Regions from separate parts of the Homo sapiens genome. Here region 2 is linked to region 1. Evidence: fine-mapped expression QTL. Tissue or cell type: whole blood. Region 1 holds a variant in brackets; the other region holds the start of a gene. All regions are shown on one strand. Distances are between the middles of the regions.

What was found. PIP is the estimated chance that this variant, and not a neighbour inherited with it, causes the effect.
Region 2: SSR1 starts here. The variant in region 1 is fine-mapped to the expression of SSR1 in whole blood (TOPMed, PIP above 0.99).

The regions. Positions count from the first base shown.
Region 1 is chr6:7,124,220-7,132,322 of GRCh38, forward strand. All of the region lies in intron 1 of RREB1 (ras responsive element binding protein 1), which reads left to right. Among named protein-coding and RNA genes, the nearest start is that of RREB1, 20 kb to the left of the region's middle. RefSeq lists an enhancer at 142-660. The variant T/G (reference allele first, on the strand shown) is at 4,970.
Region 2 is chr6:7,309,230-7,317,332 of GRCh38, forward strand. SSR1 (signal sequence receptor subunit 1) reads right to left here and starts at 3,970. Exons shown (of 8, transcript NM_003144.5): 1 at 3,813-3,970; 2 at 688-800. The coding sequence starts at 3,891. RefSeq lists enhancers at 3,134-4,002, 4,003-4,869, 4,206-4,275, 4,286-4,345 and silencers at 3,426-3,475, 3,606-3,715.

The DNA.
Region 1 (8,103 bases):
GTCCTTCCATTCTGCCCTGGAGAGTAGATGCTGTGTGGTCATGTGTTCCTTTTGTGGTGTGCTCAAGAAAAGGGGGGGAGTATATGTGTATTGGGGAGGCGGTGTGGTTAGCATTGGCCAAATTATTATATTTAGAGATCATGATTTATGTCATTGTTATCTTTGCAGGAAGTGGAATTTTGGAAGGGCTCATTTGGCCAGCTTGTCTCATGGTAGCTACCAGAAGTCTCATGGTAGCTAGCATTGCCTCTTGTGTCTCTTCAGGAAACTGAGTACACAGAAATCCAGTCCTAAACACCAGAAACTGCAAGTGGTTATATTACAAATTAATCTGTCTAGAGTACTTTTAAATAAGTTCAACTCCCAGCATTCAAGTAACTCCATGGGACTCCATTGTTATAATTTAGTTTTCACCCTTTGTTGGTTGTTAGGCTTTTCATGTAGAAATACTCCCAGCATGGTGGCAGTAGAAGCAGCAGTCATAAGATCTAACATTTATTGAGCCTGTACTAGTTACCAGCCGCCTAAATTCCTTTCATGCATCATCTCATTCATTCATCACAACAATTCTCTGACCCCATGATGTAGATGCAGTTGTTATCCCCATGATTCAGATGAGGAAATTGAGACCCAGAGAAGCAGCTAGCTAGTAGGGCTCAAACTGTGAAGTGTGACTCTGAGCTGTGCTTCTGACCTCTGGCAGACTACCTGTCATAGAGACATGATCCATTCACCAAACAAGAACTCACTGAAAACCTGCTGTGTGCAGATCCTTCCTTGTGAGGCACATCGAGGGGAAAACTGTTCTGGCTTGTGGAAACAGCAGATTACAGCTTACCAGTGGAACAGCTTATTCTAGCTGGTATTTGACAACATAAGCTAGATCTTCACTTCTGTGATGGTCAGAAGGGAGATTCAGTGTTTTGTGGAAGTGAGGGGTTTGCAAAAGTGGTGTTAGTACACAAACCAGGTGACTGGAATTTGGGAGCCCTTATAGAAGGGAGGTCAACAAGACACTAAAGCATAAGACTGTCAGGGAAAGACCTGGTGGAGAGGTAGGGTGAAACACTGGACAAATTCTGCCAAGTATGGAATTGTCACCCTGTTCCCCTTGGAAAGGTTAGAGTGTAGAACAGAGATGATCTTTTGCGTGGTGGGAAATGTCCCAGAAGTGGAAGAGTGGGGCCTTGGACTCCAGGCTTCTGCTAGTCCTCCATGTGGTTAATGGGGGGGCCTCTCCTGTCTCTTGAAACCTTTCATGTGGGCACCACTTTTAACCTCCCTGAAAGTACTCAGCCCTGTTTCAGACTCACAGGTTGCCTACTTTTGAAGAGACTCTAAGCTCTATAAGCATTTGGGAATTTAGTTTTGCATTGGGTAGGGCCAGTGCCTTGAGAACAGGTCCATTGTTGTTTTATAATAGTTTATTATTTTACATAATATGGAAACTCAAGGTTTTGCCTCAGAACTGGTATTGGGGTGATTGTAAGAGGCCCAGTGACATGTGGCAGTGCTCAAGTGTGATAGCCTCTGGGAGGTGTTGTTTCTTTGTTGTTTTACTTTTCAAGCAGGAAGAGCCGTGTGGACTGGAGGGCAATGAGAGGAGGCTGTCCTGTCTCTTAGAGTGTGTTTGGGATGGGGGTTCCCAGTGTGCCTTGCTCCTTTGTGAGGGCATCGGAGCAAGTTATGGAACTGGCAGATACTGAATTACGGTAAGTACTTCAAGGTCTGTTTCCTGCTTCTTCCTGTCTGCGGAGAAGGACTGTTTTTTGTTTGTTTGTTTGTTTGTTTGTTTGTTTTGAGACGGAGTCTTGCTCTGTCGCCCAAGCTGGAGTGCAGTGGCACGATCTCGGCTCACTGCAACCTCCGCCTCCCGGGTTCAAGTGATTCTCCTGCCTCAGCCTCCTGAGTAGCTGGGATTACAGGTGCGCACCACCACACCCAGCTAATTTTTGTATTTTTAGTAGAGGCTGGGTTTCACTATGTTGGTCAGGCTGGCCTTGAACTGCTGACCTCGTGATCCGCCCGCCTTGGCCTCCCAAAGTGCTGGGATTACAGGCGTGAGCCACTGCGCCCGGCCTCGATTCCCCCCCGACCCATTCTTGTTGCCCAGGCTGGAGTGCACTACAACCTCCGCCTCCCAGGTTCAAGCGATTCTCCTGTCTTAGCCTCCCTAGTAGCTGTGATTACAGGCACACGCCACCACATCTAGCTGATTTTTTTATTTTTAGTAGAGATGGGGTTTCATCGTATTGGTCAGGCTGGTCTTAAACTCCTGACCTCGGGTGATCTGCCTGCCTCCGCCTCCCAAAGTGCTGGGATTACAGGCATGAGCCACTGTGCTGGCAGGACTGTTTTGAAACTAGTAACAGAGAATTACGTCTTGTGTGCTACCAGCTCAGTTATAACTGACCTATCTTCTCTATTTGCTACTGTTATTATCATTGTTATTTTGCTCACAGCAGCTGGGTAGTTTCAGCAAAATAATACTGAGAAGCAATCTGGATTAGGAGGCCAGCATTCTGGGCTCCTTTTTTCCCATCTGTGGAATACCACCATCAGCAAGCCTGCATCAAGAACCGTTTCTTGACACTTGCCCTGGGTACCAGCCTCTGGAAATGCAAGGATGGGTAAAACATGGTCCCTGCCCTAAAACTCGTCAGTGCCTCATAACCAGCAAGGACAAGTGGAGGGGCCTGCAAGTGGGAAGTGGTTGGGAAAAGAAGAGGAAGTGATGCTCTCAAATGTGCAGGGCTTGTCATGTGGAGGAGGATGATGTGGGGAAGGAAAACGTCCTTCTAGGCAAAAAGCAGTTTAAGTACAGGCCCTGGAGTATGAAAATATGAGGCTTAGTTGAGGACAGGGTAGGGCAAAAAGTGGAATGTGACTAGAGGATAGGGCTTAGGCGTGTTGTATTGAGTTGGAATGATGAGAAGTGTTGGCCCTGGAAAAATGGACGGGGGCTCGGTGGTGGAGTCTGTTGTGAGCCATCAAATGCTTTGGAGCAGGACTGTGATGTGAGCAGCTCTGTGGTTCAGAGAACTGCTAACCCTTTAGAAAATTTAAGTCGGAGAGAAGACAAGGTGTTTAGCAAACTGCAGTGTGAACTTGGAATTTGGTATTCTCTTTAACAGAATAACTTCTTCCCTTTTTTTTTACAAGAGATTTTTCAACCCAGGATATGTGGGCTGCCTTCTGAAGCCTTGTTAAATGATAGGGGAAAGGTGGGAACATTTATTTTCAGCAAATATAATTCAACAATGTTTAGACTTCCCTAATTGTGTTGTACTAGTTGGTACTTACTTAAGGTCATTAGAGATTGGAATTCTTTAGAGGAGAGGGACTCATTTCTCAAAAATATTGAGGATGGACACTGGGAGCTGAACTGGGACAATGTATTCCTCGTAACCACGAGTTTGGTGTGTCAGTTGGGAGTGACTGCAGGGTGGGATAGGTGTGAGCAGAGGGCCAGCTAATTTGCTGTCTTGATGACTCTGTGGGTGATGGCTTTAGGGGCTGGCAGCGTCTGGTGGAAATAGAATCTGTTCAAAAGGTGGAGCTGCCTTACAGCAATTGCCAGCTCGCTGCTCACCTGCAGAGCATGTGCCCTCATCTGGGTCACGACTCTGCCCCTCAGATGTTCCTGGTCCTCTGCTTGGATCCACCCCCTTCACTGCAGCTGAAACAGCCAACAAAGGAGCATCATGTGCCCGAGGCCTGAAAAGTTAGAGTGGATGTGAAGGAAGTCAGACTGCAGGCCCCAAAGACAATTAATGGTGTAGTAATTATTGTAGAGGCACAACATTGCCTTGTACTCTCAGGTTTTCAGAGTCCTCTGGGGAAGAAATACGAATTTTTTATAGCCTGACTTTATACATTTCAAAGCTTGTACTCATGGACTAAGGGACTTGGATGGGAGGGTTGTGCAAAATGGGGGTAGGCCTCCTGTAAACTTGGTGGGTTGGACAGAACACATACCTCAATCATTTCCATCACTGAAAACAGATTGTTTCATTTTATGATTTTCCGAATTGTTGGCGAACATTTTTTGTTTAGTTTTGTTTTTTCATGTGTTCTCGCATTTGAGATTGTGCAGGAGGAAGTAGGATTCTGGTAAGCTGAAGTGGAGCTTTTGGGGGACCTGGAGGGGAGCTGGGTTGGAGGCAGTGTCTGAAAGTGCTGCTTTTAGTGGGTTCGACCAGGGCACACTACTTAGGGGAAGCAGAGCACCATGTATGTCTCTGTGTGTAATCATCTCAACAACTTCATGAGGTGTAGCTGTTATTTTCTCCTTTTTAAAGACAGGAAACTGAGGCTTAGAGATGCTCCTGTTTCTGAGATCATGCAGCCAGTGACACATGACCAGGAAGCTTTATGGCAGGCTTTAAGAGTTGTTCTTTTAGATAATCTCAATATACGGTGATACCTGGAGAGTTTCTACCACTTGACTCAATTTGTTTGTCTTGGGGCCGGGCGTGGTGGCTCACACCTGTAATCCCAGCACTTTAGGAGGCCAAGGCGGGCAGATCACCTGAGTTCAGGAGTTCGAGACCAGCCTGGCCAATATGGTGAAACCCCATCTCTATTAAAAATAGAAAAATTAGCCAGGTGTGGTGGTGGGCACCTGTAATTCCAGCAACTCGGGAAGCTGAGACAGGAGAATTGCGTGAATCCGGGAGGCGGAGGTTGCACTAAGCTGAGATTGGGCCACTGCACTCCAGCTTGGGCAACAGAGTGAGACTCCGTCTCAAAAAAAAAGTTATGCTTTTGAGCTTAACACATTATTTGAATACCTCCAGCTTCATCTGAAATATCCTTAATTGAGCAATTGCTATGCTAGGTTTAGGCATGGTGGAGTTTGGTGTTTCTTGCCTTTGGGGAGTTGACATTATGAAAGGAATTCTTATGCCATGTGGACCCTGAGCCAAGTTCCCATGGGAAGGCCAAGGCTCACAGAAGCTCGCAGGAG[T/G]GGGTCTGCACTTCTAGGAAAAGCACAAGTAGGGGCTGAGAGCCCAGCAGGAAAGCAGGTTGGTTTTGAGTTTACAGTGTAATTTGGTGTTGAGGAAGGTGTCTGAGAAGATGGGTTGGAGGGATAGTGGGGCAAGGTGGAAGGTGGGGCAGGATTTGACCTTTTCTTCTTAATTTAAGTGGTAGGGAGTCCAAAGTTTTTGAGTAGAGAAGTCACAGTTGGCCTGCTTAGGCCTTGGAGACACCCTCAACAGTGGGCATGTGGTTTGTGTGTCTGTGCTTTGGGTGACTGCCGTGGCTCACTTCACTGTTTGCTTTTTGGCCTGAGGCAGAGAGTGCCTCCCATGGCAGCTCGTACAGGATGAACCAAGAGGCAGCACCCAGGATATCTGAATTGCCTAAAGCCACTGCAGTGATGTACACACATAGCGAAGCTTTATTTCTTTACAGCCATAGACTTGTTGAAAAGCTGAATCACATACTTTGCTTGATATTTGACTTTGTGGTTACCAATTCCAGGTGAGCCACCTTCGAGAGGGGTAACATCCTGTTGTCGGAAAGGTGCAGCCGGGCAGCAGGGAACCTGGGTTCCACTTTAGCCCTGACATAGAAGGTTTTGGTTCATGTCCCTTTGGTCTGGTAGGCCCCTTTTTGGTGCTTGTTTACGGAACTGATTTATCTTGTTTATAATGTTGGTAGACGGGTGTATATACCAAGACCTCTGGTTTACTGAAGGTAGGGCCAAGAGCTTTCCAGCAGTCTGTTGAGTGGAGCTACGGGTCAGTCAGCACACCTGGCCCAGAGCACCGTGAGCTGGTGAACCTACTTGTCCCAGGTGTTGTAGTGTGGCACTTGAGCCCACTCTACTGACTCTCCCCTCCCTCACTCAATTTTGGAGTCTTGCTGTCTTTGCCTGTTGCTGTTCTCTGCCTCAGCCCAAAAGGAGACAAGGAGTGCCTTCACCTGCCCTCACTGGGGGCAAGAGCAAGTCTGGATAAATGACTTTTACTGATAATTCCTCCAAATCATTTTTATCCTCCATAGCCAACACTCCTTCCTCTAAAAACCTGCAAAGTAGTAGTAGTAAATCCCTTTCCATTCCTCTCCTTTGCTCTTTCAGGCCTCTGGTAAAGCTGGAAGCGCCTGAAAGAGAGGCAACCGAAGCCAAGGCTGCCATAATCCACGCGCTCTGGACGTCACCCTGGGTGACTCAGATTTGGTTGCATTTGTCATTTCACAACCACCTGCATCTGATCCCACTGTGTGGGCAAACTGTCTGCTGGGAGTCTCTGCCTGGTGCCTGGTCTTGGGGGCATAGTGTTCTTCCCCAGAATTGCTTTTCCCAGCTGTTTCTCTATAGCTTTAGTCATGGGGTTCACTAGTGAAAGCTGCCATGCCTACCCTCCCCATTTACTTTTGTTAGTAGTCATTTCTTTTTTTTTTTTTCGAGATGGAGTCTTGCTCTGTCACCCAGGCTGGAGTGCCATGGCGTGATCTTGGCTCACTGCAACCTCTGCCTCCTGGGTTCAAGCAATTCTTCTGCCTTAGTCTCCCGAGTAGCTGGGCTTATAAGCACCTGCCACCACACCCAGCTAACTTTTGTATGTTTAGTAGAGATGGGGTTTTACCATGTCGGCCAGGCTGGTCTCAAACTTCTGACCTCATGATCCATCCACCTTGGCCTCCCAAAGTGTTGGGATTACAGGCGTGAGCCACTGCTCCTGACTGTTAATAGTCATGTCTTTTTTTTTTTTTTTTTTTTTTTTTTTGAGACGGAGTCTTGCTCTGTCGCCCAGGCTGGAGGTCAGTGGCGCGATCTCGGCTCACTGCAAGCTCCGCCTCTCGGGTTCACACCATTCTCCTGCCTCAGCCTCCGGAGTAGGTGGGACTACAGGCGCCCGCCACTGCGCCCGGCTAATTTTTTGTATTTTTAGTAGAGACGGGGTTTCACTGTGGTCTCGATCTCCTGACCTTGCGATCCATCCACGTCGGCCTCCCAAAGTGCTGGGATTACAGGCGTGAGCCACCGCGCCCGGCCAATACTCATTTCTAAGAAGCAAATATGTACCATCGTATGCCAGTCATGGTAAATGCTTTCTGTGCATTATCTTCATAGTCCTCACAACAGTCCTATTAAATTGGTATAATTATCCTCATTTTGCAGATTTGGAAGGTGGCATTTGGGGAGGTTACCCTAATCTTTTCAGTTACCTAACTTAATGTACAGGAGGCATTATACCTCTTGCAGTCTGTATTTCATCTGATTTAATCTTTGCATCAACTTAAAAGTTCACTGTTATTTCTGTTTACAGATGAGGAAGCTGGGGCTTAGTTTAAATAACTTGCCCAAGGTTACTCTAGCTAGTTAGTGAGGGAGTCTGAATTCAAACCCAGGCCAGTGTACTCCAATACAAGTGCTCTTCATCTTTTCACTTCTGCATTTGTTTTTTAAGTAAAAATATCCACTTTTGGGCTGACAAAGCTGATAGCTTCTCGAACTCCTGGCCTCAAGGGATCCTCCCATCTCTGCCTCCCAAAGTGGTAGGATTACAAGTGTAAGCCACACGCCCGGCCAAAGCTGATGGCTTCTATTGGATTTGTTTTCTAATGCTTTGTCCATTTTTAAATGGGGGAAGAAAGGGAGATAATGTACTATAGGTTAAGCTCCTTGAGGACTTTTTTTTTTTTTGGAGACAGAGTCTCCTCTGTCATCCAGGCTGGAGTGCAGTGGTGTGATCTTGGCTCACTGCGACCTTCACCTCCTGGGTTCCTGTGATTGTCGTGCCTCAGCCTCCCAAGTAGCTGGGACTACAGGCACATGCCACTACTCCCAGCTAGTTTTTGTATTTTTAGTAAAGATCGGGTTTTTTTGGTTTGTTTGTTTGAGACAGAGTTTTGCTCTTGTTGCCCAGGCTGGAGTACAATGGTGCAATCTCGGCTCACTGCAGCCTCTGCCTCCCGGGTTCAAGCGATTCTCCTGCCTTAGCCTCCGAAGTAGCTGGGATTACAGGCATGCGCCACCATGCCTGGCCAATTTTTGTATTTTTAGTAGAGACAGGGTTTCATCATGTTGGTCAGGCTGGACTCGAACTCCTGACCTCAGGTGATCTACCTGCCTCGGCCTTCCAAAGTGCT
Region 2 (8,103 bases), 190 kb after region 1:
GGATCATCACTTGAGCCCAGAAGTTTTAGACTAGCCTGGGCAACATAGCAAGACCCTGTCTCTACAAAAAAAAATTACAAAAATTAGCCGGGCTTGTTGGGGCATGACGGTAGTCCTAGCTACTCAGGAGGCTGAGGCAAGAGGATCACTTGAGCCCAGGAGTTCGAGGCTGCAGTGAGCTATGCTCGTGCCACTGCACTCCAGCCTGGGGAACAGAGCAAGTCTCTGTCTCTAAAAATAAATAAGTAAGGATAAATTCTAGATGTACTATTGATAACGGTTTTGCTGTGTCCCCAACCAAATCTCATCTTGAAGTGTAGTTCCCATAATCTGCACATCGTGGGAGGAACCTGGTGGGAGGTAAATGAATCACGGGGACGGTTACCTCCATGCTGTTCTCGTGAAAGTGAGTTCTCACAAGATCTGATGGTTTTTATAAGGGGCTTTCCCCACCCTTTGCTCTGCACTTCTCCTTGCTGTCACCTTGTGAAGAAGGACATGTTTGCTTCAATTTCTGCCATGATGGTAAGTTTCCTGAGGCCTCCCCAGTCATGCTGAACTGTGGGTCAATGAAACCTTTTTCCTTTATAAATTACCCAGTCTTGGGTATGTCTTTATTAGCAGCATGAGAACAGATGAATACAATTACATACATTTTACATATATTAAATAGTATGTAACACTAACCAAATCTGTGGGTTCATCTTCTTCTACCTCGGCTTCATCATCTTCATCCTCAATTATGGAATCTTCTACTGTTTCTTCATCCTCTGTAAGATCTTGTGCCACTGCTAACAAGCCTAATGATAAAATACAGAAAAAGCAGTTACCCTTTACTCTGAAATACTAATTTCTTTTTTTAACATCAGGTATAGGCAAAAAAAACTTCCCTTGGACTAACAGAATCTCCCAGTTCACCTGAATGATGCCAATTACAATGCACCGAAGAATATTTATATTTTAGTTTACTAGTAGTCTTAACAACTGCATATCAATTTTTTTTTTTTTTTTTTAAGAGTCAGGGTCTTGCTCTGATGCCTAGGTTGGGAGTACAGTTGTGCAGTCATAGCTCACTGCAGCCTCAAACTCCTGGGCCCAAGTGATCCTTCCACCTCAGCTTCCTGGGTAGCTAGGACTAGAGGCGTGAACCACTGTTCCCTGCCTTCCATGTTATTTTTAATGGGAAATGTGGTTTAACTTCAAAAAGTGCCCAACAGATGGAAAAATGAATGGCACAAACTAAAGATGCCTTGAAGCACAAAGAACTTCAAGCAACTTTGTTAAGCAAATTAAGGAAAATAATTTTTTGCAAAGATAAGAAACTTCTAAATGTAATCCCTGTCATTAACCATACAAAGCAAACTAAACAACCCCCACGTTTAAAAGAAAACAGCATTCTTGGCCGGCGCGGTGGCTCACGCCTGTAATCCCAGCACTTTAGAAGGCTGAGGAGGGTGAATTACTTGAGGCCAGGAGTTCAAGACCAGCCTGGCCAATACAGAGAAACCCCGCCTCTACTGAAAATGCAAAAATTAGCTGGGTGTGGTGGCACACACCTGTGGTTCCAGCTACTCCAGAGGCTGAGGCAGGAGAATCGCTTGAACCCAGGAGGCAGAAGTTGCAGTGAGCCAAGATTGTACCACTGCACTCCAGCCTGGGCGACACAGCAAGACACCGTCTCAAAAAAATAAAAATAAAAAAATAAAGCATTCTTAAGTTCTAATGTTCTATGTAGGAAACACTGTTATCAGAGGTGACTACAGCTGAAACTCTTAGAACTGGATAGTTTGTAAGCCAAGGAACAAATATCTGTAATCATATCCATGGTAAAAACTGGCTTGCATGAAAAACATTGTTTAGTAAAAACTGTATTGGTAGCTTCAGGTTTGATAGCAAAGAAAGAATCCAATTATTTTTGCATGTGGCTTCAAACATGTTTTAAGATATTTTTTCTCAAACTTAGTGTTACAAAGTACAGGTATAATGCAAAAAAAAGGTGAATCACAGTTTTATAGACAATAGTACTCTAAGTAAGTCACATTATATCTATTTCAGGCAAGACCATAAAAAGAATTTCAAAGTTCTAGTGTCTTCCAACATCTCTCAGAAAAAATGATGATGTGGCAATTCTGTGGATAAAAAACATGGGAAGGGAAGCGTGTTTTCACCCAGGAGAAACAGTTAAGGACCATGCATTTGCAGTCTTTTCCATGTCTTTAAGTTCTCACTGGCTGCTAAGATTTATTGCAAAATATTAAAGAACACTGAACCATGCATTATGAACTAAAGAGATTTCACTGCCTGCTGAACAAAGCCTAAAATAGTGCATTCATAACTTACAAGTCCTTTTCAAAAACCAGTAAGAAAAATACCATGTCTGATATAGTAATTTAAAGTCGTGGTTAAATTTGAGCACTTTGGAATATAAAGGCCTTTCATAAATATTAAACAATTTTATTATTTTAATGTTAACCAATAACAATTTTGTCCCCATGAAGTCTAACAGTCTTCATTCAACTGGAAAAACCAAACACAAAAACCGTTTCTCACAAAAAATGTTTACAAGATATTAATTCAGTTTAGATAATGAATTCATGCTTCTTGAAAGTTTTTATAACTTGAAAATAGTTATAAATAGTTCTAAAACTAAAACTACATTTGTCAAGTTTTCTTTTAAAAAGCTTAAAGAGTACCAGCAAACGACTCCTAAAGTAAAAAATCTTGTTAAACCTGCAGATTAACTCATTAACAGTTGTTTAATTCTCCCACTTGGTTTTCTAGCCATTAAACAGAAGCCAGTCACTTCACTTTTCATCGCAAAACAACTCGTGAATACCTGTCACTACCGTTAAGACACACAGCTTGCTTAAACTTACAGAATGAAAGGGATGCTTAGTCAGACTAATTATTTCACTTTACAAATTAGAAAGTCGAAGTTCACGACAAAACCTGTGCAGGAAGTCAAGTTGCCATATTTTTATATTCTGCTAAGTTATTTTCACACTTAATTGCTGGGTTAATTGTTGAAAGAATAAATCTATGTATTAAAAACACTCGAAGTAGGCCACATTTTTTCAGCACAATACGATGTTTCCACAAACAAAAAATTGTTCCATGGAAAGACAAGAAGAGGAAGAAGGCAGAAGGGAGACATCCCACAGGGATTCTTCAGTCTGCTTGGCAGCAGGGGCGGATAACGGGGGTGACGATGGGGTAGTTTTTCTGAAATCAAGCCTCCTAGTAACACATACGGGTCAAGCAGGGCGTGAACAAGGCAGATGACCATTGAACAAGACACTCTGATGGCTTAGATGTGTAGAAAACAAGGGTTTTGGCAAATGAATGAAGACGGACTCCCGGCGTGGAAGCTAAAGACACGTCAGCCCTGAGCGCGAGGGGCTGGGGGTGGAGCGGAGCCGGAGGTGGCCAAAAGAAACAGCCCGGCTGCGGCGCGCTCGGAGCGCAGCCGTGTCCAGCGCCTCCTCCTGCAGCCGAGGACCCTCCAGTTCTGGCCGCTCCTGCAGGCGAGGGTCCAGGGCAAGAGGAGCAAGCCCAGCCCTCGGCCGGCCACGAAGCAAGGTCGCCCGGGCACGGCCCCGCGCTCCGCGTGCAAGGGGCAGGCCGCAGCGGGGTCTCCAGCGCCCGCGGGGACCCCTGCTGCTACGAGCCTAGGCTTGGGGAGAGGGCGGAGAGAGGCCAGCGGGGTGGACGCGGACCCCAGGACCCGGAGCGGCCACCGCCTCCAACTTCAAACTTGCCATCACTGGCATCTCCTTCCTGGCCATCCCCTCCGCACACTCCCCCAGCCTCACCTCTGGGGCCGCCTCGGAACAAGACAGTGGCAGGGAACACGAGTAAGAGAAGCAGCAGCAAGCGGGGGAGGAGTCTCATGGCGCTGCCGGTCCAGTGTCCAGTTTCCGTCGGCTAAGGCTCTCGGCGGCTCCGGCGGTAATGGCGTTACTCTTCATCCGGGCTCCGGGCAGCGAGGGGCGGGACACGTACCGCGCACGGGCCTTTGCCACGCCCCTCCCTGGACCAGGGACCGCCGCCGACGTGGCTGCTCAGCGCGGAGAGGTGGGGAGAGCAGGCCACCGGGAAGTCACGTGGCCGGCTGCTGCCTCTTTGTGGCTCCCGCGAGAGTCCGCCTTCCGCCGCAGTTGCGACCCGGCAGCTTGCGGTTAGCCGTTCTTTCCGCCCAGTTCTTTACTTCCAATTAATTAGCATTGTCAGTGGTTACTTTATTTGAATGACGATCCTCTTGATAACGGCGATGTAAGGAACATGAGCTGCCTTTATGTGGCACTTAAAAGCAAAAAATTTTGTTGGAAGAGAGGACATTGTTCAAAGGAAAAACCATGAAAATACACAGTGGAAAATCTTTGTCCCCTGTCTGCCCACACCCTCTCCCATGGTTAAGTAATGACAATTCTTAAATTATTATTTTTGAGACGAAGTCTTGCTCTGTCGCCCAGGCCAGAGTTCAGTGGCACCATCTCTGTTCACCGCAACCTCCGCCTCCCGGGTTCAAGCGATTCTCCCGCCTCAGCCTCCTAAGCAGCTGGGACTACAGGCGCGCACCACTACGCCCGGCTAATTTTTGTATTTTTACTGGAGACGGGGGTTTCACCATGTTGGCCAGACTAATCTCAAACTCCTGACCTCAGGTGATCCACCCGCCTGGGTCTCTCAAAGTGCTGGGATTACAGGTGTGAGCCACTGCGCCTGGCCAGCAATTCTTAAATTCGTATGTGACATTCCAGAATTATAAGTCACCTAAACAGTGTTTTGGTATGTAGTCAGCATTTGTAACTATACAATAGGTGCAGCAATGGCTGTCCAGTTTTCTTTAGTTTCCTTTTCATCTATTTTGGATTTGAGTTGCTGGAGTAATATAGCAGTTCATGAAATTAATCTGAATATTAAGTAATCTTGGTCTGGACCAGAGTGAGATGTCATAAAGATGAGGAAATAAATCATATGCTTACTATTGTCAATCACCTCCTTAGAGCTGTGCTTTTTCATTTAATTTTCTAAACCTCTCTATGAGCTGGATATTATTTACTGAGGAGAAAACAGACCCAGAGAGGTTAGTAATTTACTCAAAGCTTCAAAACGCTAGCAAACGGCAGATGCAAGATTTGAACAAGGCTATCTGGTTCCAGATTCCATACACTACTGACCTAGGACATTTGCTGTTCTACTCCTGCATTGTTTCCGCTTCAGGTCTCCTTGTCCTGGGGGCTGTAAATGCAGCTTGGACCCACTGCCACCACTACCTACAGTCTGCTAAAGTCACAGCCTGATGGTGCTGGGCTGAATCAACCAAATTCCACTCTGCCAGGCCACCAGTGGCACCGCTGCTGTGTTGCTGCTGCTACTAGGGCGCCCAGCATAAGTGGAGGGCCTCCTCTCACTTTGCTGCTGCCTCTGCTCCTGTGCACGCTACCAGTGTTGCCACTCTATGTCAGAGCTGTGTCTGGAATAGGGTTCTTGGTCTCACTGACTTTAAGACTGAAACCGCAGACCCTCGTGCTGAGTGTTACAGTTCTTAAAGTCCAGAGTTTGTTCCTTCATCATGTTCGGATGTGTTCCGAGTTTCTTCCTTCTGGTGGGTTCATGGTCTCACTGGCTCAGGAGTGAAGCTACTAGACCATCGCAGTGAGTGTTACAGCTGTTAAGGTGTCCATTCCTCCTGGTGGGTTCATAGTCTCGGTGGCTTTAGGAGTGAAGCTGCAGACCTTCGCGGTGAGTGTTACAGCTCATAAAGGCAGTGAGCAGCAGCAAGATTTATTGCAAAAAACAAAGCTTCTGAGAGGTGACAGCATGCTGGCAGTACTCAGCCCTCGCTCGCTCTCGGCGCCTCCTCTGCCTGGGCCCCCACTTTGGTGGCACTTGAGGAGCTCTTCAGCCCACCGCTGCACTGTGGGAGCCCCTTTCTGGGCTGGCCAAGGCCGGAGCCAGCTCCCTCAGCTTGCCGGGAAGGTGTGGAGAGAGGCGTGGGCGGGCGGGAACTGGGGTTACGCGCGGTGCTTGCCAGCCAGTGCGAGTTCCGGGTGGGCGTGGGCTTGGCGGGCCCTGCAGTGGGAGCGGCCAACTGGGCCAGGCGGGGGGCAGTGAGGGGCTTAGAACCTGGGCCAGCAGCTGCTGTGCTCGATTTCTCACCGGGCCTTAGCTGCCTTCCCGCGGGGCAGGGCTCGGGACCTGCAGCCCACCATGTCTGAGCCTCCCCCAACCCCATGGGCTTCTGTGCAGCCGGAATCTCCCCGACCAGCGCCACCCCCTGCTGCACGGTGCCCAGTTCCTTCCACCACCCAAGGGCTGATCAGTACAGGTGCACAGGCATGGGACTGGCAGACAGCTCCACCTGCAGCCCCAGTACGGGTTCCACGGGGTGAAGCCAGCTGGGCTTCTGAGTCTGGTGGAGACGTGGAGAACCTTTATGTCTAGCTCAGGGATTGTAAACACACCAATCAGCACCCTGTGTCTAGCTCAGGCTTTGTGAATGCACCAATCGACACTTTGTATCTAGCTACTCTGGTGGGACCTTGGAGAACCTTTGCGTCCACGCTCTGTATCTAGCTAATCTAGTGGGGACGTGGAGAACCTTTGTGTCTAGCTCAGGGATTGTAAACGCACCAATCAGTGCCCAGTCAAAACAGGCCACTCGGCTCTACCAATCAGCAGGGTGTGGGTGGGGCCAGATAAGAATAAAAGCAGGCTGCCCTGAGCTTAGCAGCGACAACAGGCTCCAGTTTCTTTCCATGCTGGGAAAATATCTGTTCTTTTGCTCTTTAAGCTCATATTGCCTTTATGAGTTATAACACTCATTATGAAGGTCTGCAGCTTCGCTCCTGAAGCTAGGGAAATCACGAACCCGCCAGGAAGAATGAATAACTCAAGATATGCCACCTTAAGAGCTGTAACGCTCACTGTGGAGGTCTGTGGGTTTACTCTTGGGCTAGTGAGATTACAAGCCCACCAGAAGGAAGAAACTCCGGATACACTGCCTTTAAGAACTGTAGTACTCACTGTGAGGGTCTGTAGCTTCATTCTTTAAGTCAGGGAGGCTAATGAGCCCCCAATTCTGGACACTGGAGTGGGACCTGAGCAGGTTGCCACTGATTCAGGCAGCCTGCTTTTTTTTCCGTTTATTTGGCTTCACATTCTGCTGGTTGGTTTATTTTAGAGCTGATTGGTGTGTTTTCAATTGGTGAGCTAGACACAAAGTTCTCCATGTCCCCACTGGGTTAGCTATACACAGAGTGTCAATTGGTGTGTTCACAAACCCTGGGCTAGACACAGTGCTGATTGGTACATTCACAATCCCTTAGTTAGACATTCTCCAAATCCCCACCAGATTAGAGTGCCAATTGGTGCATTCACAAACCCTGAGCTAGATACAGTGTGCTGATTGGTGTGTTTATAAACCTTGAGTTAGATACAGAGTGCTGATTGGTGTGTTTATAATCCCTCAGCTAGGCAGAAAGATTCTCTAAATCTCCACTAGATTCAGGAGCCCAGCTGGTTTCACCCAGTGGATCCCACACCGGGGCTGCAGGTGGAGCTGCCTGCGAGTCCCGCGCGGTGCGCCAGCACTCCTCAGCCCTTGGGTGGTCGATGGGACTGGGCGCTGTGGAGCTGGGGGTGGCGCTCGTCGGGGAGGCTCAGGCATGGTAGGCTGCAGGTCCCGAGCCTTGCCCCACGGCGGAGCAGGTAAGGCCTAGCGAGACATAGAGCACAGCAGCTGCTGGCCCAGGTGCTAAGCCCTTCACTGCCCGGACCCGCTGGCCGCTCCGAGTGCGGGGCCCGCCAAGCCCACGCCCACCCGGAACTCGCGCTGGCCCACAAGCGCCGCGCGCAGCCCTGGTTCCCGCCCGCGCCTCTCCCTCCACACCTCCCCGCAAGCTGAGGGAGCCGCTTCTGGCCTTGGCCAGCCCAGAAAGGGGCTCCCACAGTGCAGCGGCGGGCTGAAGGGCTCCTCAAGCGCTGCTGGAGTGGGCGCCAAGGCCGAGGAGGCCCCCAGAGCGAGCAAGGACTGCCAGCACGCTGTCCCTGCTTTGAGGTGACTGTACCTTACAGAGTTCTCCACTGACTCAGCATAAT